Regions from separate parts of the Homo sapiens genome. Here regions 1 and 3 are each linked to region 2. The links come from fine-mapping of genetic effects on gene expression. A gene starts in region 2. Each other region holds a variant in brackets. All regions are shown on one strand. Distances are from middle to middle.

Region 1 (5,000 bases), 86 kb before region 2:
TAAGATCTGATATACCTCAGTGGATTTTTTATTCATACATATTTTACTCTAGCGGCAAAATTTTAAAACTAAGCTCATTTAAAATTAATTATTGAATGTCTGTTATGTGACAGGCATTTTTGTCAGGCATAATGATACAATGGTGAATGAGATGGACATAATCCCTGCCCTCAAGGAGCTGCATTCTAGAAGGGAAGACAGATGACAAATGTTTGATCAAATTACTAAAATTGGTAAGATCTTGGTAAAAATCATGTAGACAATAAAGGAGTGAGCCCCAGCAGTGGGGAGGAAGGGCCTATTTCAGCTAGAGTGGTCAGGAGTCTTCTGAGGAGGCAGCATTTGTACTTGTCTTTTCAAAACAATCAAGTTTTGGTTGTGGTTTTGTTCTTTTTTTAAACTTATGTCTGGTTTATAAAGAATATTACAATGTTTTTATTCTTAACATTATTTTTCATTTCTCTGTTTTATTAATCTGCTTTTTGTTTTCTTCCTACTACTTTTCTGGGGTTTAATTTCTAGTTCTTTCTCTAATTTCTTCTTTTTCAAAAAAAGTTTTTTAAAATTGATGCATAATATACATATTTGGGGGGCACACGTGATAATTTAATACATTCATATTTTTCAAGATCAATTCAGTATAATTGGGATATCCATAACCTTCAATATTTATCTTTTCTTTATGCTAGAAACATTTAAATTATTCCCTTCTAGCTATTTTGAAATAATACAGTAGAGTATTGTATAGTCATCCTACTGATCTATCAAACACTAGGTCTTATTTCTTCTATTATACTGTATATTTATACCCATTAATCAATCTCTCTTCATCCTCTCTTCCCTACCCTTCCAACTTCTGGTATCTCTAATTTCTTGAGAAGAAAATTTATATCATTGATTTTTTACCTTTCATTCTTTTTAAACGTGTTCATTTAAGGCTATGTATTTCCTTCTAAGCATAACTTTAGCAATATCGTAAGTTTTTTTTTAAAAAGTCAGCATTAATGTGTAATTTAAATACAATAAAACTCACATATTTCACATGTACATGACTGTTGGTTGTATACATCCAGGTAATAATCAAGGTAAAGAAAATATCCACTGTCAGCTGGGCGTGGTGGCTCATGCCTGTAATCCCAGCACTTTGGGAGGCTGAGGTGGATGGATCACCTGAGGTGAGGAGTTTGAGACCAGCCTGGCCAACATGGTGAAACCCCGTCTCTACTAAAAATAGAAAAATTAGCTGGGCTTGGTGGTAGGCGCCTGTAATCCCAGCCACTTGGGAGGCTGAGGCAGGAAAATTGCTTGAACCCAGGAGGCGGAGGTTGCAGTGAATGGGGATCATGCCACTGTATTCCAGCCTGAGTGACAGAGTGAGACTCTGTCTCAAAAGAAAAGAAAAGAAAAGAAAAGAAAATATCCATGGTCCCAGAAATTCCTCTTTTTGGGCTTTAATTTTCCAGGCAACCAATGAACTGATTTCTGTCATTATAGATTAGCTTTGCCTATTCTAGAATTTGATGTAAATGAAATTATACAATACATATTCTTTTGTGTATGGCCTCTTTTGCTCAGCATAATGTCTGTGAGATTCATCTGTGTTGTTGCACGTGTCCATAGTTTGTTCCTTTTTATTGTTTAGTATTCCAATTGTATGAGTGTACTAAAACTTGTTTATCCATTCATCTGTTGATGGACACTTGACTCTTATGAATAAAGCTGCTCTGAACGTTCATCTAGAGATGGTTTGCTGTTTTTTTCAAAATTATAGATATGTTTTCGTTTCTCTTAGATAAAATACCAAGAAGTGAATCACTGGGTTATATAATAGATGTGTTTAACTTGATAAGAAACTGCCAAAGTGTTTCCCAAAGTGATTATACCACTCTTTACTCCTGCCAGCAGTGTATGAGAGTTCCAGGTGCCCCACATCTTCGTTAGCACTTGTTATTAGTTTTAGTTATTCTAGTGAGTGTCAAATGTCATCTCATATTTTAAATTTGCATTTTTCTAATGATATTGAGCATCTTTTCACATGTTCATTGGCTATTTGTATGTCTCTTTTTGTAAAGTATCTGTTTCTTCTCATTTGCCCCTTTTTATTGGATTCTGTGTAGTCTTACTGAATTGCAAGAGTTTTAGAAATATATTCTAGGCCAGGTATGGTGACTCATGTCTGTAACCCCAGAGATTTGGGAGGCTGAGGCGGGAGGATTACTTGAGGCTAGGAGTTTAAGATCAGCCTGGGCAACATAGTGAGACCCTGTCTCTACAAAAAATTTAAAAATTAGCCAGGTGTGGTAGTGCTTGCCTGTAGTCCCAGCTGCTCAGGAGAACTACTTGACAGGAGGATCACTTGAACCTGGGAGTTTCAGGCTGCAGTGAGTGAGCCATGATTGTGCCACAGCACTTCAACTCTCGTGACAGAGCAAAATTCTGTCTCTAAAATATAAATACACACACCACATTTTAAATATATAATAAATAATGTATATTTAATACATACATGTTTCTAGATATGTAAGTCTTTTTTTTTTGAGACGGAGTCTCACTCTGTCGC[T/C]CAGGCTGGAGTGCAGTGGTGCTATCTCGCCTCATTACAACCTCCGCTTCCTGGGTTCAAGCAATTCTCTTGCCTCATCCTCCGGAGTAGCTGGGACTACAGGCACGTGCCACCATGCCCGGCTAATATTTTGTATTTTTTTTTTTTTTTTTTTTAAGTGGAGACAGGGTTTCACCATGTTAGTAGCCAGGATGGTCTCGCTCTCCTGACCTCGTGATCTGCCTGCCTTGGCCTCCCGAAGTGCTGGGATTACAGGCGTGAGTCACTGCACCAGATTGTGGCCAGATTGTGACTTGATTTTCCTTTTTCTGTGGGTGTCTTTTGAGGAGCAGAGGTTTTAAATTTTGATGAAGTACATTTTACCAGTTTTTTTCTTTGTGATTTGAGCTTTTTGTGTCCTGCTTTATTAAATCTTTATTACAAAATTAGCCAGATGTGATGGTGTGTGTCTGTGGTCCAGCTACTCAGGGGCCTGAGGTGGGAGGATTGGTTGCTTGAATCCTGGAGGTGGTGGCTGCAGTGAGCATTGATTGTGCCACCGTACCCCCGACTGGGTGACAGAGCAAGACTCTGTCTGAAAAAATAAAGAAAGAAGGACAGAGAAACTATACTTAAGAAGTGTATCCAAGGAACTACAGTGGAGAGCCACATCCATATGTCAATTTGAGTTAGACAATAAGATCTTGGACTTTGAGCTGACGCTGTAATGACTTGGGGGGGTTCTTCAGAGAGGGAAGTATATTTTGCATATGACAAGAATGTGAGTTACTGTGGCCAGAGAGTGGAATATGGCAGACTTTTTTCCATAGATAAATAAAACAATATCTTCTATCCCACATGGTTTTCTAGAGTTGACCTTGATACTCCTCCAATTGAGAGGTGGATTCTAATTTCTTTCCCTTGAATGTGGGTGGGAAATTGCTGAAGCTGCTGTGGGATAATATTCTAAGATTTTTCTAAGCTCTGTTTAATGGAGAAGGTCTGCTAGGTATGCCTTTAAGATCTTCAGGAGGCCTCTTGTCTGTTGGAAAAGGTCTGTGAGGCACTATCTTTTTTGTTTGTTTGTTTGTTTGTTTGAGACAGAGTCTTGCTCTGTTGCCCAGGCTGGAGTGCAGTGGCGTGATCTCAGCTCACTGCAACCTCTGCCTCCCGGGTTCAAGCAATTCTCCTGCCTCAGCCTCCTGAGTAGCTGGGATTATAGGCACCCGCCACCACGCGTGGCTAATTTTTTGTATTTTTAGTAGAGGTGGGGTTTCACCATGTTGGTCAGGCCGGTCTCGAACTCCTGACCTCGTGATCCGTCTGCCTTGGCCTCCCAAAGTGCTGGGATTATAGGCGTGAGCCACCACGCCTGGTCTAGGCACTATCTTAAATATTTTTGAGACTGTAACAAAAGGTCTCATAGGCCTGCTCTGGATTCAATCTCTGTTTTTCATATTATTGCAGGTGACAGAGTTGCTAAAGTTTCTGACACAGTGCAATGTGTCTCTCTTTTTTTTTTTTTTCCAGTTTCCTATAACATTTTCCTTTATACTTTACCAACAATGTCCTTGATGACCTGTAGGCTTTTACTACCGGTCTCCTCATGGCCTTTCCAGTTTTCCATTCACCACATTATCTCAAATACAGTGTCATGGTTTAATTTTTTTGTGTGTGGCAGGACCGATATACCAAATTTCTATTTCAATTACTACTGGTGTGTCATAAATCACCCTGAAACTTAGTGGCTTTAAACAATATTATTTCTCTTGGCTTCTGAAGGTAAGCAATTTAGGAAGGTCCTGGCTGGCAGTCTAACAGCTTAGTCTATCTACATTGCTCTTGACTGAATTTTCTGGGCTATGGATCATATTTTCCTGTTTCTTTGCATATCTAGTGAATTTTGATTAAACAATGCATATCTCTGTGCATTATGTATTGTAGAGACTGCATTCTGCTGTTGTCCTCTGTATTTTTGTAAACTAAGAGTGAGATCTTAAGGTGTGTTCAGGCTCCGGTGCAGAGTTTTTGGCACACAGACATCGTAGCTTGTAGTGTGTGCATCCAGTTGCATCACATCAGGAGAAATATGGTGAGACTTTGAGTCTTTTTTTTTCATTTTTTTGTTTTAATAGACAGGGTCTTGCTCTGTTGCCCAGACTAGAGTGTGGTGCAGTGGTATAACCTTGGCTCCCTGTAGCCTCAACTTCCTGGGCTCAAGCGGTTCTCCCACCTCAGCCTCCAGGGTTGCTACAGGCCTGCACCACTATGCTCAGCTAATTTTTTTTTTTTTTTTTTTTGTAGAGATGGCAGTTTCTCTATGTTGCCCAGTCTGGTCTTGAACTCCTGGGGTCAAGTGATCCTCCCACCTTAGCCTCCCAGAATGCTGGGATTACAGGCGTGATCCACTGGGCCTGGTCCTACTGGTCTTTTTTTTTTTTTTTTTTTTTTTTAACTTTTA
Region 2 (10,982 bases):
GTGGGTCAGTCAGCGTTGTCCAGGGTGGAGAGGAGGTCAGGGCCAGGGGGTCCTGGGATGGAAAGTCTGGTAGGTGAGACCTTGGCTTAGGCACATGGGGTCCCTATCCTGGGGTGGTCCAGGGGTGCCAAGCTTCATGGCTCTGTGAGACCAGTGCCTTCTGGAACAGCTTTTTGGTCTCAGATGTACACATAGGAGAGCAGTGCCAGGCTCCTGGGTTCTTTTACCACCTGCCCTAGGGTGTCGTCCTGGGTCTTCAGACTATTATTGCACTCTGGACTATGGGGCCCTGCTGTTAGGGTGATCTATGTGTGCCTCCCTCAGCAGGGCTTTGGAACTTGGAAGAGGTTGAGAGGCAGAGCCAGCCCCTGGGACAGAATAGGTAATAGACAGTTCTGGGGGTCACCCAGGGACAAGTGAGTCAGGGGCCCTGTAGGGCTCATTCTACCTTTTGCCACTCTCTGACTAGGAGCGGAAGCTGTGTGCCTATCCTCGGCTGGAGATCTACCAGGAAGACCAGATCCATTTCATGTGCCCACTGGCACGGCAGGGAGACTTCTATGTGCCTGAGATGAAGGAGACAGAGTGGAAATGGCGGGGGCTTGTGGAGGCCATTGACACCCAGGTGGATGGCACAGGTACAGAAGGTGGGGTATGAGGATGGGGCCCTCCTGGAGCTCCTCTCTTCTGGACTCCAGGGGCTTGGTTGAGGAGGCTCCTCCCTCTCTGGGTTGGCACTGTGGGTGTCAGGCTATGCTTGGCAGAGGGAGGAAGGAGACCCACCTACCTGAGGACCCACATGTGGAGTTGCCTGTTCCCAGACACATGGATCTACATAGATGTGGATTCACACACATTACCTCCTGGCAACACAGATACAAAGACCCTGCCTGGATTCCCTCCAGATGCAGCAGGAGTACCCTTGGAAACAAAGATCACAGACAGCTCGATGTTCATGGGAGGGGGCTGAGGCTGCTCAGGAAAGGAGTCCCTTGGGTGGGGCTCAGCAGGAAGTAAGATTGGCATAGATCTGGAAGGTAAGGAGGGGAGCAAAGTGTTCTCTTGTCCCTCAGTACGGGCCCCACCCAGAGCCAGCTGCTTTCTCCCTGCCAGGGAACAACCAGGGAGCATGCAGAGGGGAGCCAGGAGATCAGTCACCTGTGCCTTTCTCCAGGGCCAGCCCACACTCCTGCTGGCAGCCTCAAGGCCCCAGGTCCAGGCTGGAAGGCTGCTTGCCTGCCCACCCCTCTGCAATGATCTGTGACCCCGGGCTGTCTCAGGCACAAGGGGGTCTGCTGGGTTACATCCCAGATGGTCCCAGGGGGCCTTATCCTTGGCCAACCTGGTGGAGTTTGTGACTTCTAGGAGTGGTACAGGGCTGTGGGGAGAGGAACTGTCCCTCCTCTCCTCCTTCTTTAGCAGATGCTCTGCCCATCCAGTCTTCAACAGCCAAGGTCACCCTAGGGAGACGTGTCAGCTAGGGCTGGGTAGGAGGGTATTGGGAGCAGTCTCTACTCCCTAGGGGCCTGTGTCCAACACAGTTAACTTCATCTGCCACTTAATTACCTCCATGGGGTACAGCTCCCTTCTGCCTGGTAGTGCCCGGCAGACACTCTTCAGTGCCCCTACTGTGGGCACAGGACATGGCACAAGGTCAGCAGGCCCAGGCAGCCTCCAGGGCAGGAAGACAGAGTGCCTTCACTTTACTGTGACCTCCCTCTGCTGCCTGCCTCCCCCTCCTTGACCCACCCACCCAGCTTCCTTCCCTCCCAAACACTGCCTGTCAGGGTCATTGAAGGACTGCTTGGCACCCACTACAGCTGGCTGTAGTGGCAGCTCCCACATTCCCCAGCTCCTCAGCCTGTTTTCCTCCCCTCCAGCCCGCCCACCCACTCCCTGGTGTTGGGGCCAAGGGGTCTGCCCACCTCTCACAGGGCCTGTCCTGACACCCCAGCGGGACTCGGTGTTTGCCCACCAGGTGCATGCCACTGACACAGCAGTTGGTGGTGGGTGCATGCAGGATGTCTGACTGCCCAAGGCTTGGCCTGTCCCTGCCCGCCTCCCTGCTGTGGCCCTAGCTTAGGCCGGGAGGTGAAAGGGGGTGATTAGCTGCCTTGTGCCTGTTATTACATTGATGTATTATTTAGCTTCAGAGAGGCGATGAATATTTGATCGTCTTGCACTGGCTGTGGGCAGAGCGAGAGGGAGGGATTTGGGTGAAGGGGGTGGGCTTCAAGTCCCCTGCCCCAGTAGTCGTGGGGATTTAGGTAGGGCCCTGCCTTGCCTGGTATCTTCTGCCCAGGGATGCAGGCATGGGACTCTGGGACCTCCTCCTGTGTAGATCTTGGTGGGGGTATAGGGATGCTACTTCCCCGTATTGCATTCCTTTTTTTTTTTTCTTCTGCGGCAAGGTCTGGCTCTATCGCCCAGGCTGGAGTGGTGCAGTGGCAAGATCTCGGCTCACTGTAACCTTTCCCTCCCAGGCTTAAGCTGTCCTCCCACCTCAGCCTCCTGAGTAGCTGTGACAAGAGGCGTGTACCACCATGCTTGGCTAGTTTTTGTATTTTTTATAGAGATGGTGTTTCGCCATATTGCCCAGGCTGGCCTTGAACTTGTTAGCTCAAGTGATCCTGCCTCAGCCTCCCAAAGTGTTGGGATTCTAGGGATGAGCCACCATGCCCAGCTGGATTCCTTTTTTTTGTTTGTTTGTTTTTAAAGACAGTTTTCCTTTTTTGCCCAGGCTGGAGTGAAATGGCATGATCTTGGCTCACTGCAACCTCCACCTCGTGGGTTCAAGCGATTCTCCTGCCTCAGCTTCCTGAGTAGCTGGGATTACAGGTGCCTGCCACCATGCCCGGCTAATTTTTGTATTTTTAGTAGAGATGGGGTTTTGCCATGTTGGCCAGGCTGGTCTGGAACTCCTGACCTCATGTGATCCACCTGCCTCAGCTTCCCAAAGTGCTGGGATTACAGGCGTGAGCCACCGTGCCTGGCCTCCAGCTGAATTCCTTTGCTTGAAGTGTATATATGTCTCCAGGGGCTGTCTTCATTTCAGCAGGCTGTCCTGGCCTGAAGGAGGCACCCCTAGGCTCCTTCCTCTGAACATTCCTAGCCTAGGAGCTGGGTGGTAGGAGGTAGCATGCTGGGAAGCAGGCACATTCCTATACCTGGGGTCCCAAGAGAGCCATTGGGTGGGTGGGCAGACAGAACATACAGTTTAATAGGGCCAGGGAGAAACTGTCTCCCTCCTTTGCTCTTTTCAGGCCTGCGGTCCCTGGGGCACTGATCATTATTTAAGGAGCAGTGAGGGCCTGGCATCCTGTCCCCTGGTCAGAAGAAACTACCCAAAACTTAAAGCTCCCCCAGCTCCCTGACCACCTCATTCACAGGCTTCTGTCCTGGGAGCCACACCTGGGGCCTCAGCAAGAGGAGGGCCCTGGGCCAGCAGCCTGGGCTTCTAGGGCTCACCTCACCTCTGCCAGTAGCGCCCAGAGGGCATATTCTGGGGGCTGAGTGGGTGGTGGGGGTAGGGAGAGACCCCAAATTCCCCCCTCTCCTAATTCTCCCACCCCCAACCTAGGCCCCATTTGAGGCTCAAGGAAAGCCCCAGGCTGAGTCCAGGCGCCAAGCAGACCCCAGCTGCACCTGGCTTGGCTCCAACACCATGGAGACAGTGGCTGGGGAAGCTGGCTAACCCCTCACCTTCTGTGATGTTTGACAGCTGACCCTCTCCCCATCATACAGGAAGGGTAGCAGATCCACTTTCTCCCAGTCTGGATTCCTGCACACAGCGAGCCTGAGCCATGTGTTCCTCCTTGCCACCCCAGCCTGCATTCAGTGCCTCTGATCCAGGGAGATGAACCCAGGGGTTGCTCCTGGACAGGGCAGATGAAGGGGCTGCTTGCTTGGAGGATGTATTGGGGGTGGAAGGAGCAGGTTAGAAGGAGTTTGGGCCATCAACCTGGCTCAGCACTGGTTTGGGGCACCCCAACCACCAGCAGAGTGCTCTCATCATCCCCTTTTGCTATCTTGTGGCTCAGGAAGCACCAGTCATTGGGGGTGGGGTGGGTAAGGGTTTCTCAGGGTCGACCCAGGCATAGGGAGAGAAAACCCTTAACATGTTTCATCCCAGCACCCTCCTCCTTGCAGCTGGTTGAGTATTTCTCAGGCCTTCTCCATCCTCCTCGTACTTCAGCTCCCTCCTCAACTGGGACTTGGTGTGTACCAGAGGCAGGGGCCTGCTGACTCCCTGGATGCTGCTCCTGGGAGCCCTGCACGGGGGAGGGCTGCAGAGGGGCCTCCTGCTGCATTCTGCAGTCCTCGTGCCCTGTGGGTGATGTTCTGTAGCTGGCCCTGGACACATCTCTTTCCAAGCTTGAAGTGGGGGTGGGGGAAGGTGGAGAGGACACTACTTGTGTCTCTTTGTTCTACCTCAGCTCCTCACCTCAGGGCTGAGTGGCCCTTAATAAATGTGGGGGGAGGGCAGCAGGCTTTGTGGAAGTGCAGGGAGCTGAGGCTAATTTAGAGTGGGGAGAAGAGTGCACAGCTGCCTCCTCCCACCCTCTCTCCCTCCCTCCCTCCTTCCCTCCCTCCCTTCCTCCCAGCTCTTTCCCTCTGCCCTGTCTGTGCAGCCCCAGTCAGGGTAGAGGGCAGAGGGCAGCTGGAGCAAGCCCCCTGAGCCCGGGAGGCTGCATTATTCATGAGTGCACTGCGTGCTGAGTTGCCTCTCCCTGGAGGAGGGGGTGGGGTGGTCCTAGCTAACCTGTGCTCCCTTTTCCTGGTCATAGGAGCTGACACAATGAGTGACACGAGTTCTGTAAGCTTGGAAGTGAGCCCTGGCAGCCGGGAGACTTCAGCTGCCACACTGTCACCTGGGGCGAGCAGCCGTGGCTGGGATGACGGTGACACCCGCAGCGAGCACAGCTACAGCGAGTCAGGTGCCAGCGGCTCCTCTTTTGAGGAGCTGGACTTGGAGGGCGAGGGGCCCTTAGGGGAGTCACGGCTGGACCCTGGGACTGAGCCCCTGGGGACTACCAAGTGGCTCTGGGAGCCCACTGCCCCTGAGAAGGGCAAGGAGTAACCCATGGCCTGCACCCTCCTGCAGTGCAGTTGCTGAGGAACTGAGCAGACTCTCCAGCAGACTCTCCAGCCCTCTTCCTCCTTCCTCTGGGGGAGGAGGGGTTCCTGAGGGACCTGACTTCCCCTGCTCCAGGCCTCTTGCTAAGCCTTCTCCTCACTGCCCTTTAGGCTCCCAGGGCCAGAGGAGCCAGGGACTATTTTCTGCACCAGCCCCCAGGGCTGCCACCCCTGTTGTGTCTTTTTTTCAGACTCACAGTGGAGCTTCCAGGACCCAGAATAAAGCCAATGATTTACTTGTTTCACCTGGATTTGGGTTGTGTATTTGTTTGTTCTGCCTTGGTTGGGGGCGGTGGGGGGATGGCTGTACAGATAGGCTGGGAGTGGGAAGGAGCCTCCCCTCCCCAGGACAAAGAATGGAAGGAACATGGCAGGTACCCTGGGGTTGGGGGAGGAGGGGAGTTAGAGATCCTCCACGTCCTGCTCTGTGACCCCAGTGGCCAGCTGCCCCTCCATTGCAGCTGCCAGAGAGCAAGCAGAGCCTGGCTTGGGTGAGAGCTGAGTATGGGGTGCCCTTCAGGGCTCAGGAATGGGGAGCTCACAGCCTGTCTTCATCTGCCTCCAAGGGATGCCTTTGTGTCTGTGACTAGTGTGCCTGCACGCTGGTACTTCCCCAGTAGGCGAGGCTCCCCCACTGTGCCTGCCAGTGGCTGTGTACCTGTGTGTGTGCATGTGCACCCACGCTCATGCATTTGGCTCTGTGTAACCACGGATGGATGGGGCTGCTTGGGTAAAGCTGTGCCCAGGTGAGCATCAGGGTATGATTGTACCTGAGCATGGCTGAGTCTGTGTGGATGGCTGTGTGCCTGTGTGAGTGTGTGTGTGTGTGTGTGTGTGTGTGTGTATTGCTGTGCTTTGTGTCTGTGTATGGTTGTATTATAGGAGCATGTGAGGCTGGCTAACAGCATCTCTATGGGGGCTTTGTTCATGTACAACTGTGTGTGGCTGTGTCTGTACAACTGTGTGTATGGTGATGTTCATGACGTTCATGTATAAAGCTATGTGTTTTGCTATGTGTCCACATATAAAAACACACATTTGCTATGTGTCCTGCAGCCGTATATCCATAATTATGGCCATGTATGTGTGGACATGTCTTGGTGGACAGCTATTTGTGGCATGTCCTTGTGTGAGCAGCTGTATATATGTGGCTGTGTCCACATGTGCAGCCGTGTGTAGACATGGTCACATGTTCTTAGGGGCAGGGGTGTGCCCATGTGTATTATGGCTGTCTACAAGTATAGCTGTGTGTGGTTGCATGTTTATGTGTACTATGCATGTGGCCATGTCCACATTTACAACTGTGTAAGGCTAAGTGTATGTCCTCATCCGTGTGCACACAGCTGGGAGTGGTGGCTGCCTAGCTGTGTGTAACTGTGTGTCCATGTGCTGCGACTGTGCAGCTTGTTTGCTGCAGGCCACATCATGGGCTTTTCTGGCTGATGCTGTACACAGCCATATCTGTGTTTACAGCCCTGTGCCTTTTGTGAGGCTGACTTGTTGAGCAGGTTGGGAGTGTGGCTAGAAGGAGTGTGTGACTCCTCACCTCAGCACCCTCCTGCTGTCAACCCCTCTGCTCCAGAGGCCTGGCCCATTGCTCACCTACCCCAGGGAGCTGTTGCTCTGAGGCAGCCAGAGAGGGTGAGAGCAGCCGGTGGCAGAGTTGGAGGTGGAAGACAGCATGTCTGTCTCCCACTGCCACCTTGTCTCCTGTTAGTGATGGGGCTTGTGTTTGTTTGGGTTTTATGTGTCTGTTTCGTTTCAAAGCTGTATTCTTTCCACAGCAGCAGGACATCAGGTTTCTGTGTCCAGGGAAAAAGCTCGTCCTTGGTGATCACCCCCGCACCCCTACGGACTGCCACACGCACATGTGGGTGTGTGTGCCTGAGGGGTCTGGGCTTGGCATGTTCATTAGCATGTATCTGAGCTGGCCTTGCTTCCACTGACACCTGTGGAAGAAAGGGCAGTGTCGGGAATGTGTGTAGGGATGCCATGCCCCTTGGCACTTGTTAGTGTGTGCACATGTTAGGGGCAGATAGCACAGGCTCTCTAATCCCCATTCCTTCAGCACAGTCTGGCACTACAGCTTATCCACTACCCTCTACCCAGGGGCGTCCTTCCCCATCCTGCTGTGGGAGGGAAGAGTCAAGAGAATCTTCTCAGAGCTGTCCTCCCTCTGCTTGGGCTCCAGCTCTCACTCCCTCCTACGCAGCAGCCAGTTCCAGAAGCCTTTCCCTAGGCCCCTCCCCTCCCAGATGCCCCTGCCATCCCTAACACTCCCTCAGGGTTGACCCTAGTACTTGGTTCTGCAGCCCTTCCTGCAGGTTGCTCTCTCCTTGCTTAAATACCCTTTTTACATGGGAGTGGGTGGCAGGTTTAAAGGGCATCTGCAGGAAGGAAGGGGAGGCCCCATTCTCCTCTGACCTCTCCCTTCCCCCAATCTTTTCCTCATAGTGACTCTGGCTCCAGGTCTCAAAAGTGGCAGAGGACACATGCCTCCAACTCAGGCCTGGGATGTGGACCCAGCTGAAATCGCTGAGTGGGGAGAATAGACTCCACCCGTCTCCCACGCGCCCCTTTACCTATCCCCCAGAGGCACCCCTTGCACTAAGGCCAGCTCCTCCACTCTGCAGTAGCACTATGGGCACCTGTCGGGGCGCAGTGACCTTCCCCACCCCGTGCCCCGTGGCATCCCCCCGCCCCCCACCTATGCTCTCTAGGTGGTAGTCTGACTATGGGGCGGAGTGGGCCACGAAGCACCCGCTCCAGCGCAGAGCGAGAGCGCTCGGGGATTCAGCACCACGAGGCGGACAGCTCCAGGCCCTGAGGTCCCCAGAAAAGCTGGAGCGCGGAGTGTCCAGAGGAGGCGGAGGCTGGGTTGGGAGCAGGAGACCTGGCGTCTGGAGGAACGGAGGAGGGGCTGGGGGCGGGCCGGGGCCGGGGGCGGGGCGGGGCGGGCCGCGATTGAAAGCGGCGGGGCGAGCGGGCGGGCGGAGAGCGCAGAGCCAGCGAGCCAGCGAGCGAGCGAGCGGGAGCCGGAGCCTCGCGCCCCCCGCTCCACTCCGATTCTCTCCGCGCCAGAGCCAGCGCGCCAGGTAGGGTGAGCCGGTGGTGGTGGTGCCGCTGCCGCTGCCGACCTTTTTGGCCCTTACCTCACGTCCCAGGGTCCTGCGGGCCCTCAAGTTGTGGGGCGCCCGCGCTGCTGTGTCCAGACAGCGTTCCCTGAGAGCTCCGGGAAGCGGGAAGACAGCCCCGGGCGTCCCGCCTTTCTTCTCCAGAAAACGCACGCCCCACATCGCACTCCCCCGTTCCTCCTGCTCCAGCGTCCTCTGGTCCTTCTTTCTGTCTGTGCCTCCGTCTTTGTCTCAACCTCTCAGGCTTGCTCGCTCCCTGCCCAGATTTTGTGGCCCAGGCTCCTGGCTGTCTGACTCCGGGTTTCTGTCCCCTTCCTGCCTCTGAGCTTCCGTCTGGGCCTCCCCTCTGGGAGACTTGCGACTTGACCAGTTTTGGCTTCAGCCCCCATCTGGGTCCCTGTCTCCATCTGTGCTGGTCTTCCTCCCTGCTTCTCCCTCGCTTGCCTGGGTAAGCTGCTGCTTTCCTGATCCCCAGAGGAGCCCAGTGCCCCTGCCCTGGGGAGCTGAGGGGGCAAAATGAAGAGGCTCAGCCTCCGTGGCCAGCACATGGGGTCCTTGAGTTAGTTGCTGCCCTTCTTCAAACTCAGTTTCCTTTCCTGTTCTGAGGAAAGAGGTATGTCCCTCTCCCAGCCTTTCCAAGCCTGTGTGATTGTGAGAGCCTTTGTGGGGTGTGTGTTTGGGAAGGCAACTGGGGTACAAATGATTGGACGCAGTGGGGAAGAGACAGGGAGGGGGTCTCTGAGGGCCATGGCTAGGGTGGGCAGGGCCCTGAAGCTGAGGATGGGGAGATTGGAAATGGTGACTTTCTCTGCTGGGTCGGGAGTGAAGAGAAAACAGAGGCACAAAATCTCAAGCAGTGTTCTACACAGAGCTAGAGAGTCCCGCACTCTCACCCTCAGCACTGTTTGGAGACTCTAGCCCCCAACCCTGACACACACATACGTGAACATCTGCTTGCCCTGTTGACTTAGGACCTTGAGCCACTTGGGTACCCTCCCTGAGGCCAGCCATTCCACCTTGCTGTCTCATTCCCAGGGCTTAGTGTCTCTATTCCTTCCTCAGTCAGCAAACTGTGGGGATGGCTTTTTAAGAACCAAAGGTTAGAACCCTTGGGTGTTCACATGGGCTCCAGTCTCCCCACGGGTTGGAGACTGTCCCTTAGAGATGCTTCCCTTCCTCTTCCCTGGTGGGTCCTGAGACAGCAGTTCCTTCTCTCTGGAAATCCAAGGCTCAGGATGGGGACCTCTGAGTTTGTGACTGTGACATAGTCTGTTCCAAAGGTATTGACCTCGGGGTCCTGGGAGGTTTGTGCTGTTCTTGGACACCCTTTGAATTACAGAGGGGTCAGCATTGGCTGGGGTCTCCTGTCCTCTGCCTGGGACTTCACTGCTTGCATCTCTCCCCACTGCTGAGTTTGGTAGGGGAATATGGCCCATCTCTCACCAAGCTGAGGCCAGGGCTGAGAGACAGGTCCAGGGGAGTCCCAGGAGCTTCTCAACCTACTTAATGACACCATCCTGTCCCTCCCTGGCTTTTGAGTACCTAGGAAAGGGGCTCGTGGGGAGGCAGAGTCAGAAGGGGCAGCTGCTCTCAGGTTCCACTTTTCCTGGTCTGTTTTTCTGTCTTTCTATCTCTCTGCAGGAGCTGGGTCCCTTCGCATCTCTCTTCTTGTCTGTCCTTTCCTGGTCCCTGTTTCCTCCTCTCTTTGCCTTCGCTGCTTCTAATCTCATCCCCTGGAGACCCAGGTCTGCGGGACCCATCCATCCCCTTTGGGGCCATGGGATCGCTGCTTGCGCTCCTGGCACTGCTGCTGCTGTGGGGTGCTGTGGCTGAGGGCCCAGCCAAGAAGGTGCTGACCCTGGAGGGAGACTTGGTGCTGGGTGGGCTGTTCCCAGTGCACCAGAAGGGCGGCCCAGCAGAGGACTGTGGTCCTGTCAATGAGCACCGTGGCATCCAGCGCCTGGAGGCCATGCTTTTTGCACTGGACCGCATCAACCGTGACCCGCACCTGCTGCCTGGCGTGCGCCTGGGTGCACACATCCTCGACAGTTGCTCCAAGGACACACATGCGCTGGAGCAGGCACTGGACTTTGTGCGTGCCTCACTCAGCCGTGGTGCTGATGGCTCACGCCACATCTGCCCCGACGGCTCTTATGCGACCCATGGTGATGCTCCCACTGCCATCACTGGTGTTATTGGCGGTTCCTACAGTGATGTCTCCATCCAGGTACGTGGAAGCCACCCAAATGGGGGCTAGGGAGGGAGGCCGGAGGTGGTGACCCAGAATTCCTGCTGAAAAGGGGCTCATGGGCTGCTGTGAATTGGAAGGGAAACTAGAAGCTTCCTTGCAGTAGCTTTTACAGAAGCTAAGAAAGTGCCCTGGTCACATAATGGTGGTCGATTTTTAGAGACTGTGCAAGAGAACATCTTACTCTCATTACTCCCACACACACACACACCCTCACACACACACACACACCCCACACACCCTCACACACACACACAGCCCCCCACACACCCACACACACCCGACACACCCACACACACCCAACACACCCACACACACGCACCCCACACACCCACACACACCCCACACCCACCCCCACACCCACACACACACCCAGACACACACACCCTCACACACACACACACCCTCACCCTTGATGTTAACCCTGAGGGGCTTAATAGTCAGGTCTCCCACTTACTAACTGC
Region 3 (10,982 bases), 140 kb before region 2:
CTGCCTTGGCCACCCATAGTGCTGGGATTACAGGTGTGGGCCACCTCACTCAGTGCCAACCAGATGCTTTATCTCTCTTTTATCTATCTCTCTTTTTTTTTGAGACAGAGTTTCGCTCTTGTTGCCCAGGCTAGAGTGCAGTGGCATGATCTCGGCTCATTGCAACCTCCGCCTCCCGGGTTCAAGCGATTCTTCTGCCTCAGCCTCCAGAGTAGCTGGGATTACAGCCATGCGCCACCATGCCCGGCTAATTTTGTATTTTTAGTATAGACGGGGTTTCTCCATTTTGGTCAGGCTGTTGTCAAACTCCTGACCAAAGGTGATCCGCCCGCCTCTGCCTCCCAAAGTGCTGGGATTACAGGCGTGAGCCACTGCACCCGGCCCTATATATCTCTTAATCCTTTGTTGTCTGGCTTGGTCCTGCATTCCTCCTGAGCAATATCTCTGAGGTGAGTTCCTAGTTGCCTGGACCAAAGATTCTTTTCCTGATGTTTATTCTCCCTTGTTCTGACTAACTCCCCCTTTCCCATCATCCTTGCTGGGAGGGATGTTGCACATGCTTGGCATACACGTACAACTGTGGAGAGTATAGCATCATGAAGCATCATGTACCTGTCACCCAATTTCAACAATTATCAATACTTCTCCATCTTTTTCAATATATTCCCTATTTTTTGTTGTTGTTGGCTTTTTTTTTTTTTTTTTTTTTTTTTTTGAGACAGGGTCTCACTCTGTTGCCCAGGCTGGCATGCAGTGGCATGGCTCACTGTAGCCTCGACTTCCCAGCTCAAAGTATTCTCCAACCTCAGCCTCCTGAGTAGCTGAGACTACAAGTGCACACTGCCATGCCCAGCTAATTTTTAAATTTATGTAGAGATGGGGTCTCACCACATTGCCCAGGCTGGTCTCAAAACTCTTGGGCTCAAGCTATCCTCCTGCCTCAGCCTCCCAAAGTGCTGGGATTAGAGGTGTGAGCCACTGCACCAGGCTGTTGTTGGCATATTTTAAAGCTAGATCTAGACATTGACACTGAGTGTTTAATTAATAAGAACATTCTTATGTTCTTATTAATTACACGCCTGTAATCTCAACACTTTGGGAGGCTGAGGTGGGTGGATCACGAGGTCAGGAGTTTGAGACCAGCCTGATCAACGTGGTGAAACCCTGTCTCTATTAAATATACAAAAATTAGCCAGGCATGGTGGCGGGCGCCTGTAATGCTAGCTACTTGGAAGGCTGAGGCAGGAGAATCGCTTGAAACCAGAAAGTGGAGGTTGCAGTGAGCCGAGATTGCGCCACTGCACTTCAGCCTGGGTAACAAGAGGGAAACTCCATCTCAAAAAAAAAAAAAAAAAAAAAAAAGAACATTCTATTTTATTTTTTTGAGACAAGGTCTCGCTCTGTTGCAGTGGCACAATCTCTGCTCATTGCAACCTTCACCTCCCAAGGCTCAAGTGATCCTCTCACCTCAGCCCCAGGAGTAGATGAAACCACAGGTGTGTGCCATCATGCCCAGCTAATTTTTGTATATTTTGTAGAGAGAGGGTTTTACCGTGTTGCCCAGGCTGGTCTCAAATTTATAAGCTCAACCAATCTGCCCACCTCAGCTTCCCAAAGGGCTGGGATTACAGGTGTGAGCCACCGCCCCTGGCCGATTTGTTTATGAATCTTATCAAGTCTGGCTTGTAAGGCTCTGTTTAGGGCAAAGTAGAATTTACTGATTGACCGAATCCATGCTCTCAGCCCAAATTTCTCCACCAGAGACGTGTGACCTGCCCTTATCTGTCAGTTGGCTCCTGTTTTAAATGTTTTAAAATTTTTCTTAGATTAAATGTTTAAAAAATTTCTTAGATGTTTAGAGGAAGACTATTTTTTTTCTAGTCAAAATCATGTGCCATAGCAGCATCTTAAATATCAATTTCATTTCAAAGGGACTTTGGCAAGCCTTTCTCCTTTGAAGGTCCACTTCTCTCTCTCTCTCTCTCTTTTTTGAGACAGGGTCTTGCTTGCTGTGTTGCTCAGGCTAGAGTGCAGTGGCGTGATTATGGTTCACTGCAGCCTCAACTGCCTGGGTGCAAGTGATTCCGCCCACCTTAGCCTCCCAAGTAGCTGGGACCACAGACATGTACCACTATGCCTGGCTAATTCTTTAATTATTGTAGAGATGGGGGTCTTGCTATGTTACCCAGGCTGGTCTTGAACTCCTGGGCTCAAGCAATCCTCCCATCTCTGCCTCCCAAAGTGCTGGGATTACAAGCATGAGGCACCATGCTGGCACTTCTCTTACTGTCCCATAAGTGGAATAGCAAAGAATGCCTTGTGAAGTATATAGTCAATACATTCCTTAATAGAAATCAACTGTGTAATAGTAGCAGCATCAACAAATAGCCTATTTATTTTTGAGACGGAGTCTCACTCTTGCCCAGGCTGGAGTGCAGTGGCATGATCTTGGCTTACTGCATTCTCTGCCTCCCACGTTTAAGCAATTCTACTGCCTTAACCTCCCTAGTAGCTGGGATTACAGGCGTATACCACCACACCTGGCAAATTTTTTGTATTTTTAGTAGAGAGGGGGTTTCACCATGTTGCCCAGGCTGGTCTCAAACTCCTGACCTCAGATGATCCACCATCCTCGGCCTCCCAAAGTGCTGGGATTACAGGCGTGTATTAATGGCGTGAACCACTGCGCCTGGCCGACAATAGCCCACTGAAATGGAAAGGGTTACTCTTTCACATTTAATGTGTCTAAATTTTATCTCCACTGATATTCTCCCCAGGTTATACTCTCCAGCTTCCTAACCTCTTATAAGGAATCTTGAATCTTAATGAGGGTAGAACATTTGGCTTTTTGTGCTTGCATAAATCTTTCATGTTACATAAATAACATGGAGAATATTTATGTCCCAGATATCTTAAATTTAGTAAGTTTGGTGTCTTACACTTGGTAACTCGGTGCCTCCCCTGAGTGCTTCAGATCCAAACTGATTCATCCCACTGCCTCACTTGATTCCACTTGATTATGGATGGGTCTTTGCATCTGGGTTATTCTAGCTTCCTCAGAGCTCTTCCCTTCCCTACTGTTTTATCCACTCATTGTAGATTTGGTTTATCCAGTTTTGTCTGTGAGGAATGCATGTTTTCTGGGCTTGGCGCCAAATTTTTACTTAACTTTTGGGTAAAACTGTATCCCAGCTGCTGTTCTAGAGATGAGCTCTCTGAAACCAGTTTTATTTGTTTAGGAACCAGATAGTACATATTATGGTGGAAGATGTTATACCCATATTGAAAATAAAAACAATCTTGCTCCAAGTGGAACACCGGTTGTCTGTATGAGAGCCAACGTACTGATAAGTACTGGGCAGTTTCAGCTACAGGAGCTTCCAAATGGGCTACAGATATGATAAGGCTATGTAGTATTTTTGTAAGAGATACTGTTTTGTATGTTTCACATCTATGTAGGATTTGTTTGTGATGTGCTGCTGTTGACTGATTGCCATGTTGTATGCTGTGTGAATCCTCACAGCACAGAGCTGTGGATGCCATTATGCCAGTTGTACAGATGAGAAACTAAGTGATTTGCTCCAGTTAAGTGGTGCTGTTAAACCAGGTATCTGACACCAAAGAGCTCCCACCCCATGATATACCTATGGCCTCTTCAGCAGTGTTGATAGTAAAAGCTGAAATATGTGTGGCATCTGGTTTTCAACCTGGGCTTGTGTTTGAGGAGGAGGTCACAATAGCACTCTAGGCCCTGGTTAGGGAAACCTGGAAAAGAAACCTCATGTGTCTTTTACTCTTTTATTGAGGTTTGAAGAGCAATACTTTACTAGCATAATTTATTTTACCTTCCAAATCATTTTCTTTTTTTTCTTTTTTTTTTTTTTTGAGATGGAGTCTCGCTCTGTCACCTAGGCTGGAGTGCAGTGGTGCAGTCTCTGCTCACTACAAGCTCCGCCTCCTGGGATCACGCCATTCTCCTTCCTCAGCCTCCTGTAGTAGCTAGGACTACAGGTGCCCACCACCACGCCTGGCTAATTTTTTATATTTTTTAGTAGAGACAGGGTTTCACTGTGTTAGCCAGGCTGCGATCTCCTGACCTCATGATCCACCTGCCTCTGCCTCCCAAAGTGCTGGGATTACAGGTGTGAGCCACCGTGCCTGGCCCCCCAAATAGTTTTCAAATCTGGCCTTTCCTCTGGCTTTTTAACTGGCCTTCTATTTTCAATCCCCTTTTATTCCGCCTTCCACATTTCTTCCAGCAAATTTTTTTTCTAGGCCATGTTTTGAATACAATGTGCTAAATACTGAGCCAGGTATCTTTATTGTAGAATTTATATTCCTTCACCACTTGATCCTCTTAAGAAAATTTGAAGGTAGGGAATATCTTCATTTTACAAGTGAGGAAACAAACTGTGGTCCAAAGAATTTAAGTAGCTTGCTGAAGCTCATGTAGCAAAATGAGCTGGTACTTGTTTTCAGTTTGAAACTGTTCTTTTAAGCATTAACATTCTATGCCACAGAGTGACCTTTATAAAAGACGGATCTGCTTATACCATTCTGCTCTTGCTTGGAGGCTAAAATCCTATCTCCTTAGCAGGTCTCCAGGTTGCCCTATGTTCTTGGCCCTGTTACTTCTCCAGGCTCATTTTCTACTCTTCTCCCATACTTCCTACTTTATGCTTTAGTAATACAGACTGCTTGGATTTCCTTGAAAACATTCTGCTTTCTTGTCTCTGAATCATTGTTCATGAAATTCCCTATCTTTTTTTAGGTGAGACAGAGTTGCTCTGTTACCCAGGCTGGAGTGCAGAAATGTGATCTCGGTTCATTGCAACCTCCACCTCCTGGGTTCAAGTGATTCTCCTGCCTCAGCCTCCCAAGTAGCTGGGATAACAGGCATGTGCCGCCATGCCCGGCTAATTTTTGTATTTTTAGTAGAGACGGGTTTCACCATGGTGGCCAGGCTGCTCTTGAACTCCTGACCTCAGGTGATCTGCCCGCCTCTGCCTCCCAAAGTGCTGGGATTATAGGCGTGAGCCACCACGCCCGGCCGAAATTCCCTTTTATCTTTTTCTTTTTTTTTTTTTGAAACAGAGTCTCACTCTTTTGCCCACCCTGGAGTGCAGTGTTGCAATCACGGCTCACTGCAGCCTCAACCTCCCAGGCTCAAGCAATCCTCCCACCTCAGCCTCCTGAGGAGTTGGGACCACAGGAGCATGCCACCATTCCTGGCTAATTATTTTATTTTATTTTTTGTTCCCTATGTTGCCCAGACTGGTCTTGAATTCCTATGCTTAAGCAGTCCTTCTGCCTCAGCCTCCCAAAGTGCTGGAATTACAGGTGTGGGTCATCACGCCTGGCTTGGCTGATTTTTTTTATTATTTATTTATTGTTGAGACAAGGTCTCACTTTGTTGCCTAGGCTGGAGTGCAGTGGCGCAATTGTGGCTCACTGCAACTTTGACTTCCTGGGCCCAAGCAATCCCCCCACCTCAGCCTCCCAAGTAACTGGGACTATAGGTGTGTGGCACCCTGCCCAGTTAATTTTTTTTTTTTCCCCCTGAGACCGAGTCTCACTCTGTCGCCCAGGCTGGAGTGCAGTGGTGTGATATTGGCTCACTGCAACCTCTGCCTCCTGGGTTCAAGCGATTATCGTGCCTCAGCCTCCCAAGTAGCTGGGACTACAGGT[A/G]TGAGCCACCACACCCAGCTAATTTTTGTATTTTTATTCTTTAAATTTTTTAAATTTTATTTTTTTTTGAGATGGAGTCTTGCTCTTGTTGCCCAGGCTGGAGTGCAGTGGCGTGATCTCGGCTCACTGCCACCTCCACCTCCTGGGTTCAAGCAATTCTCCCGCCTCAGCCTCCCAAGTAGCTGGGATTACAGGCACCCACCACCATGTCTGGCTAATTTTTGTATATTTAGTAGAGACTAAATAAACATGTTGGCCAGGCTGGTTTTGAACTCTGGACCTCAGGTGATCTGCCCGCCTGGGCCTCTGAAAGTGCTGGGATTATAGGCGTGAGCCACTGTGCCCTGCCATTTTTTGTATTTTTAGTACAGACAGGGTTTCACCATGTTGGCCAGGCTGGTCTTGAACTCCTGACCTCAGGTGAGGAGGTCACCCGCCTTGGCCTCCCAGAGTGCTGGGATTACAGGCATGAGCCACCATGCCTGGCCAGCTAATTTTTTTGTTTGTTTGTTTTGTAGAGATGGGGTCTCCCTATGTTGCCTAGGCTGGTCTCAAAGTCTGTGCTCAGCGATCCTTCTGCCTTGGCTTCCCAAAGTTCTGGGATTACAGGTGTAAGCCACCACACCCAGCTTGATATTTTGTAGAGATGAGGTCTCACTTTGTTGCCCAGGCTGATCTCAAACTCTTGGACTCAAGCCATTCTCCCACCTCAGCTTCCCAAAATGCTGGATTATAGGCATGAGCCACCGAGTCTGGCCAGAAATTTCTTATCTTTGAAGTCATTCCCAGGCAATACCTCTGCCTACCCCATTCCCTGGACATTACCTAACTGTCCAATTCTTTCTTCAAAACTCTCTTTGAGCCTCACTCTTAGTGTTTTTTTGCCTTTCCTGACCTGTCGTGTGTATCTTTGTGTCTCCAGTAGAGAGTAGTTTTTTAATAAGTCTTTGTTGAGCTGAACAGAATTTTTGGAGATGTGACTCTCTAGAATTAGACATTCCAGAGACCACCAAAGCTTCCACATTGGTAAGCTGTTTTGTAAATTTAAAAAACCTGAGTAGGTAAGGGTCAGTTTCTGACCTGAAGGATGTAAACGTATTAACAAGAGCATGTTTAGATTTTGGCACCTGGCTGTATTAGAACTATCTTTGTAGAACCATCTTCTTCCTCCTTTTTAAACTTCTATTACTATTTAATATTCATTTTTGGACTAGTACCCTAGGAGACTGTTCCTTATTTTAATGGCTTTCATTTCATGTGGTGCTTTCCAAGTATTGGTTCTCATCCATCCCATCTACTTTTTCTCTGAAGCTTCATAGAACAGCCTGATCCAAGCCCTGAGAGCCTCTTTATGTCAGGGTGCATAGAATGTGCATTTTAGTAGAAGGACCTCCTGGTTTTTGCCACGGTTCCCTCCCCGGTGTGTTCATCAAAGATCATCAGGGTCAGTAGTTAGAAAGTAATAATACCGTAGCATTTGCTTTATCATTTTGCTGAGAAGGGTTTATTTTTTATTTATTTTTTTCTGTGTTTAAGCATTTGGTAATATATTTAGTGAGTTTTAACTAATTGTTAAGCCTGCAGATAATGAAAGTGTTGACTCTCACTGACACTGGAAAAGGCCCAGGTGTGGGAGGATTAGTTATTAGGTGGTAGACTATCAGCTTGTTCTCCACAGATCAAGATGATCCCTTTTCTTTCACTGAGGTTTCTCTTAAATAATTCCTTAAATGTCCTGTGGTTATTTGTAAATCTTTTTTAAAACATGCCACTTCCTGTCAAGTTTAGAAGGCAGCCCAGAGGGGGACAACTTTTGGAAAGCAAAATTAAATAATTGATTTAGGTATCAATGGGCTTTTCAGGGTTTTGAGTCTGCTGGCTATAGTATTTTAATCCTGATGTTAATGGCTTGTATAGATACAAACCCTTCTCAAGGGTTTGAGGCTGCTCCCAGTGCCTGGTAAAGCCTTAGGAAATCTCAGGCCAGGCTTCTTTTCTATTCTTCTCTTAAATTGCGATGAAGCAGTATGTCTCTGCCTTACACAGGAAAACAGGGAGTGCTTCACTTTGGGCCACAGAATACATTAGATTTGGAGTCCTCCATTAGATGTAACTGAAGATAGGAGGTTTCTTTTCTATTCTTCTCTTAAATTGCAGTGAAGCAATATGTCTCTGCCTTATGCAGGAAAACAGGGAATGCTTCACTCTGGGCCACAGAATACATTAAATTTGGAGTCCTGTAACTGAAGATAGGAGGTTTGTTATCTACATGTAAACATAGAGTCAGGTGTTAGGAATGGAGAGACTGGATAGGAGGAGGTATAAGGGGAGCTCTTGGGGTCTGCCCTTTCCTTTAGCCTTCTAAATAAGGCAAATCAGTATTACTAGGATTCAGCAAAACTTAGACATTGGCTTCTTGGCTTAACTATATAGCCTGTTGAAGACACTGGCTCAGGCCAGGTGCAGTGGCTCACACCTGTAATCCCAGCACTTTGGGAGGCTGAGGTGGGTGGATGGCTTGAGCCCAGGAGTTCAAGACCAGCTTGGGCCAGATGGTGAAACCACATCTCTGTTTATTTTTTTAATTTTCTGTTTATTAAATTTTTAAAATTAAAAAAAGAAAGAAACTGGCTCAAATATAATAGGGGAAAAAGTTAAGAGAGAGCAGTCACAGCTTTGCAGGAGCATGTAGTGCATGTTATTTATATGTTAGGATGCTGTTAAGAAACAGCTTTTCATTTGAAGATCATATGTTTGATTCTTTTCTGTAAGTTCAAATGAGGGAAGCCTTATTTCTTCCCATTTTGTTCATCACACTCCTGAAGTCAGTGTCTAGACCTGAGATTAGAACAAAGAGGCCTTTTCACTCCTGTGCACTACTCACTACTCAGTCTAATTGCTAGTCCTCAGGTGCTTGGGGAAGCCTGCATGAGTTGCTAGAATGTCAGGAACATACCATATAGTTATTGTAGCGATTGTAAATAAGATTTTAAAAAAATTACACTTTCCAGCCTGGGCCACATAGACCCTGTTGCTACAAAAAGTGAAAAAAAGTTAGCTTGGTGTGGTGGCACATGCCTGTAGTCTTAGCTACTGGGTTGGCGTGTGGGGGTGCTGAGATGGAAGAATCGCTTGAGCCTGGGAGGTAGAGGCTGCAGGCTGCAGTGAGCCGAGATCTCACCACTGTACTCCAGCTGCCTGGGTGACAAAATGAGACCTTGTCTTAAAAAATATATATGTGTGTGTGTGTGTTTATATACTTGTAGGTAGTGACTACATAGAAATATAATAGATTTTTATTTATGTATTTTTTGAGATGGCGTCTTACTCTGTCACCCACACTGGAGTGCAGTGGTGCCGTCTCAGCTTATTGCAGCCTCTGCCTCCCCAGTTCAAGCATTTCTGCCTCAGCTTCCTGAGTAGCTAGGATTACAGGTGCGTGCCACCATGCCAGGCTAATTTTTGTATTTTTAGTAGTGATGGGGTTTCACCGTGTTGGCCAGGCTGGTCTTGAACTCCTGACCTCAGGTGATCCGCCCGTCTCGGCCTGCCAAAGTGCTGGGATTACAGGCGTGAGCCACTGTGTTCAGACTAAAATAGATTTTTCTTTATTGATCTTTCATGTAGCCACCTTACTGAGCTCCCCCACCCCCCCCTTTTTTTTTTGAGACGGAGTCTTGCTCTGTCACCCAGGCTGGAGTGCTGTGGCGCGATCTCAGCTCACTGCAAGCTCTGCCTCCCGGGTTCCTCCCATTCTCCTGCCTCAGCCTCCCAAGTAGCTGGGACTACAGGCGCCCGCCACCATGTCTGGCTAATTTTTTGTATTTTTAGTAGAGATGGGGTTTCACCATGTTAGCCAGGATAGTCTCGATCTCCTGACCTCGTGATATGCCCGCCTCGGCCTCCCAAAGTGCTGGGATTATAGGCGTGAGCCACTGCGCCCAGCACTGAGCTCCCTTTATGTCTAGTAGTTTGACTATAGATTTGCTATGTTGAAATAATGTAATCCTTGACTCTTTACAGTTTTCTTTCTTTGTTCCAGTCCCTTTGCCTTTTTTTCGTCTTACTTATTGTAGACTCCAGTTTGATGTTGAGAGAAACACTGACTGACAGCATGCAACCTTATCTTGTTCTGAATTTAAAGGGTACACTCCCAGTCATACTGTGTGGGGCTTGTTTCTAGTAGACTCCCTTTATCCAGTGAAAGTTTTCTTCAAGTTTGCTAAGAGTTTGTTTGCTTTTGTAATCATGAATAGGTTCTGAATTTTATCACAGCCTTTTCTGCGTTTTTTTTTTTTTTTTTTTTTTTTTTTTTTAATGACAGAGTCTCAGTCTGTCACCCAGGATGGAGTGTAGTGGTGCCATCACAGCTCACTGCAGCCTCGAACTCCCAGGCTGAAGCTTTCCTGAATAGCTGTGACTATAGGCATGCACCACCATCTTTTCTGCATTTTTAGAGATAGTTATGTCTGTTGACCCTGTTGGCTCTTTCTTCTGTTTGATTAGTTCCTCGTGCGTTTGTACATTCAGTTTGTGAGTAAGGCTTTATCTGTGGGAATCTCACATGGCCTGGGTTGAGATATGTGCCTGAGCTATTTTGCGTTTGCTTCTAGGCACCTAAGATGTATCATTTGCCTAGGACCACTTTAGTTTTGGTTAATTTCTTGGACAGTGTAGGTAAGTATATATTTAAACCTCAAACTGATTTGAGGGCTGACTGATGATTACAGGCTCCCATTTTGTCTCCATCCTCCAACCTAGGTTGATGCAGCTTTTATGTTGTCTTCTGTATTGGCTGGCAGATTTTTTTGTAGTTTACTCTTTCATGAGATTGTAACTCCTTAAGGTCCTGGCTTTAGGTAGAGGTCATAGTTACTCCTTTTTAGCTTTTTTGAGCCCAAGGCATTATCTCTTATCTTTTTATTTGTTCCCCAAGATTGGCAACCTCTTCTGCCAGAACTGCTGCAGTGTCAAATCTCAAGAGTATTAGTCTTGTGTTTTCAGTTTGTTTTTCATTCTTGGTCCTTGGGGGTTTATATTAACTTTTTATAAGCATAGCTGTGAATCATTTAAAAAGGACAGTTATTATAATTTTATCCACATTTCTACATGTTTCGCAGTGGGATAAGTTGCAGGGTCTCTTAACTGCCAAGGTACCAAGTAGGAAGTTCTTGTCCAACTCGTTAGATGTACCTTTTTCATTGTGTTATCTTGTTGGTTTCTACCAGTTATTCAAGTACTTCCTCTCAGTACTTTTTTTTGTTAACTTTTGCAATTTTTTTGTTTTTGCAGAT

What was found. PIP is the estimated chance that this variant, and not a neighbour inherited with it, causes the effect. A credible set is the group of variants that fine-mapping cannot tell apart.
Region 1: its variant is the best candidate, but not a certain one, in a credible set for the expression of GRM2 in subcutaneous fat (GTEx, PIP 0.50).
Region 3: its variant is the best candidate, but not a certain one, in a credible set for the expression of GRM2 in whole blood (TOPMed, PIP 0.75).

What each region holds. Positions count from the first base shown.
Region 1 is chr3:51,615,440-51,620,439 of GRCh38, forward strand. All of the region lies in intron 3 of RAD54L2 (RAD54 like 2), which reads left to right. Among named protein-coding and RNA genes, the nearest start is that of TEX264, 53 kb to the right of the region's middle. The variant T/C (reference allele first, on the strand shown) is at 2,561.
Region 2 is chr3:51,698,937-51,709,918 of GRCh38, forward strand. It overlaps GRM2 (glutamate metabotropic receptor 2), which reads left to right and starts at 8,132. Exons shown (of 6, transcript NM_000839.5): 1 at 8,132-8,231; 2 at 9,912-10,497. The coding sequence starts at 10,048. TEX264 (testis expressed 264, ER-phagy receptor) reads left to right here. Exons shown (of 5, transcript NM_015926.6): 4 at 470-638; 5 at 4,788-5,387. The coding sequence ends at 5,080. RefSeq lists an enhancer at 5,004-5,872.
Region 3 is chr3:51,556,493-51,567,474 of GRCh38, forward strand. The region is part of intron 2 of RAD54L2 (RAD54 like 2); the gene reads left to right. Among named protein-coding and RNA genes, the nearest start is that of RAD54L2, 23 kb to the left of the region's middle. The variant A/G (reference allele first, on the strand shown) is at 5,689.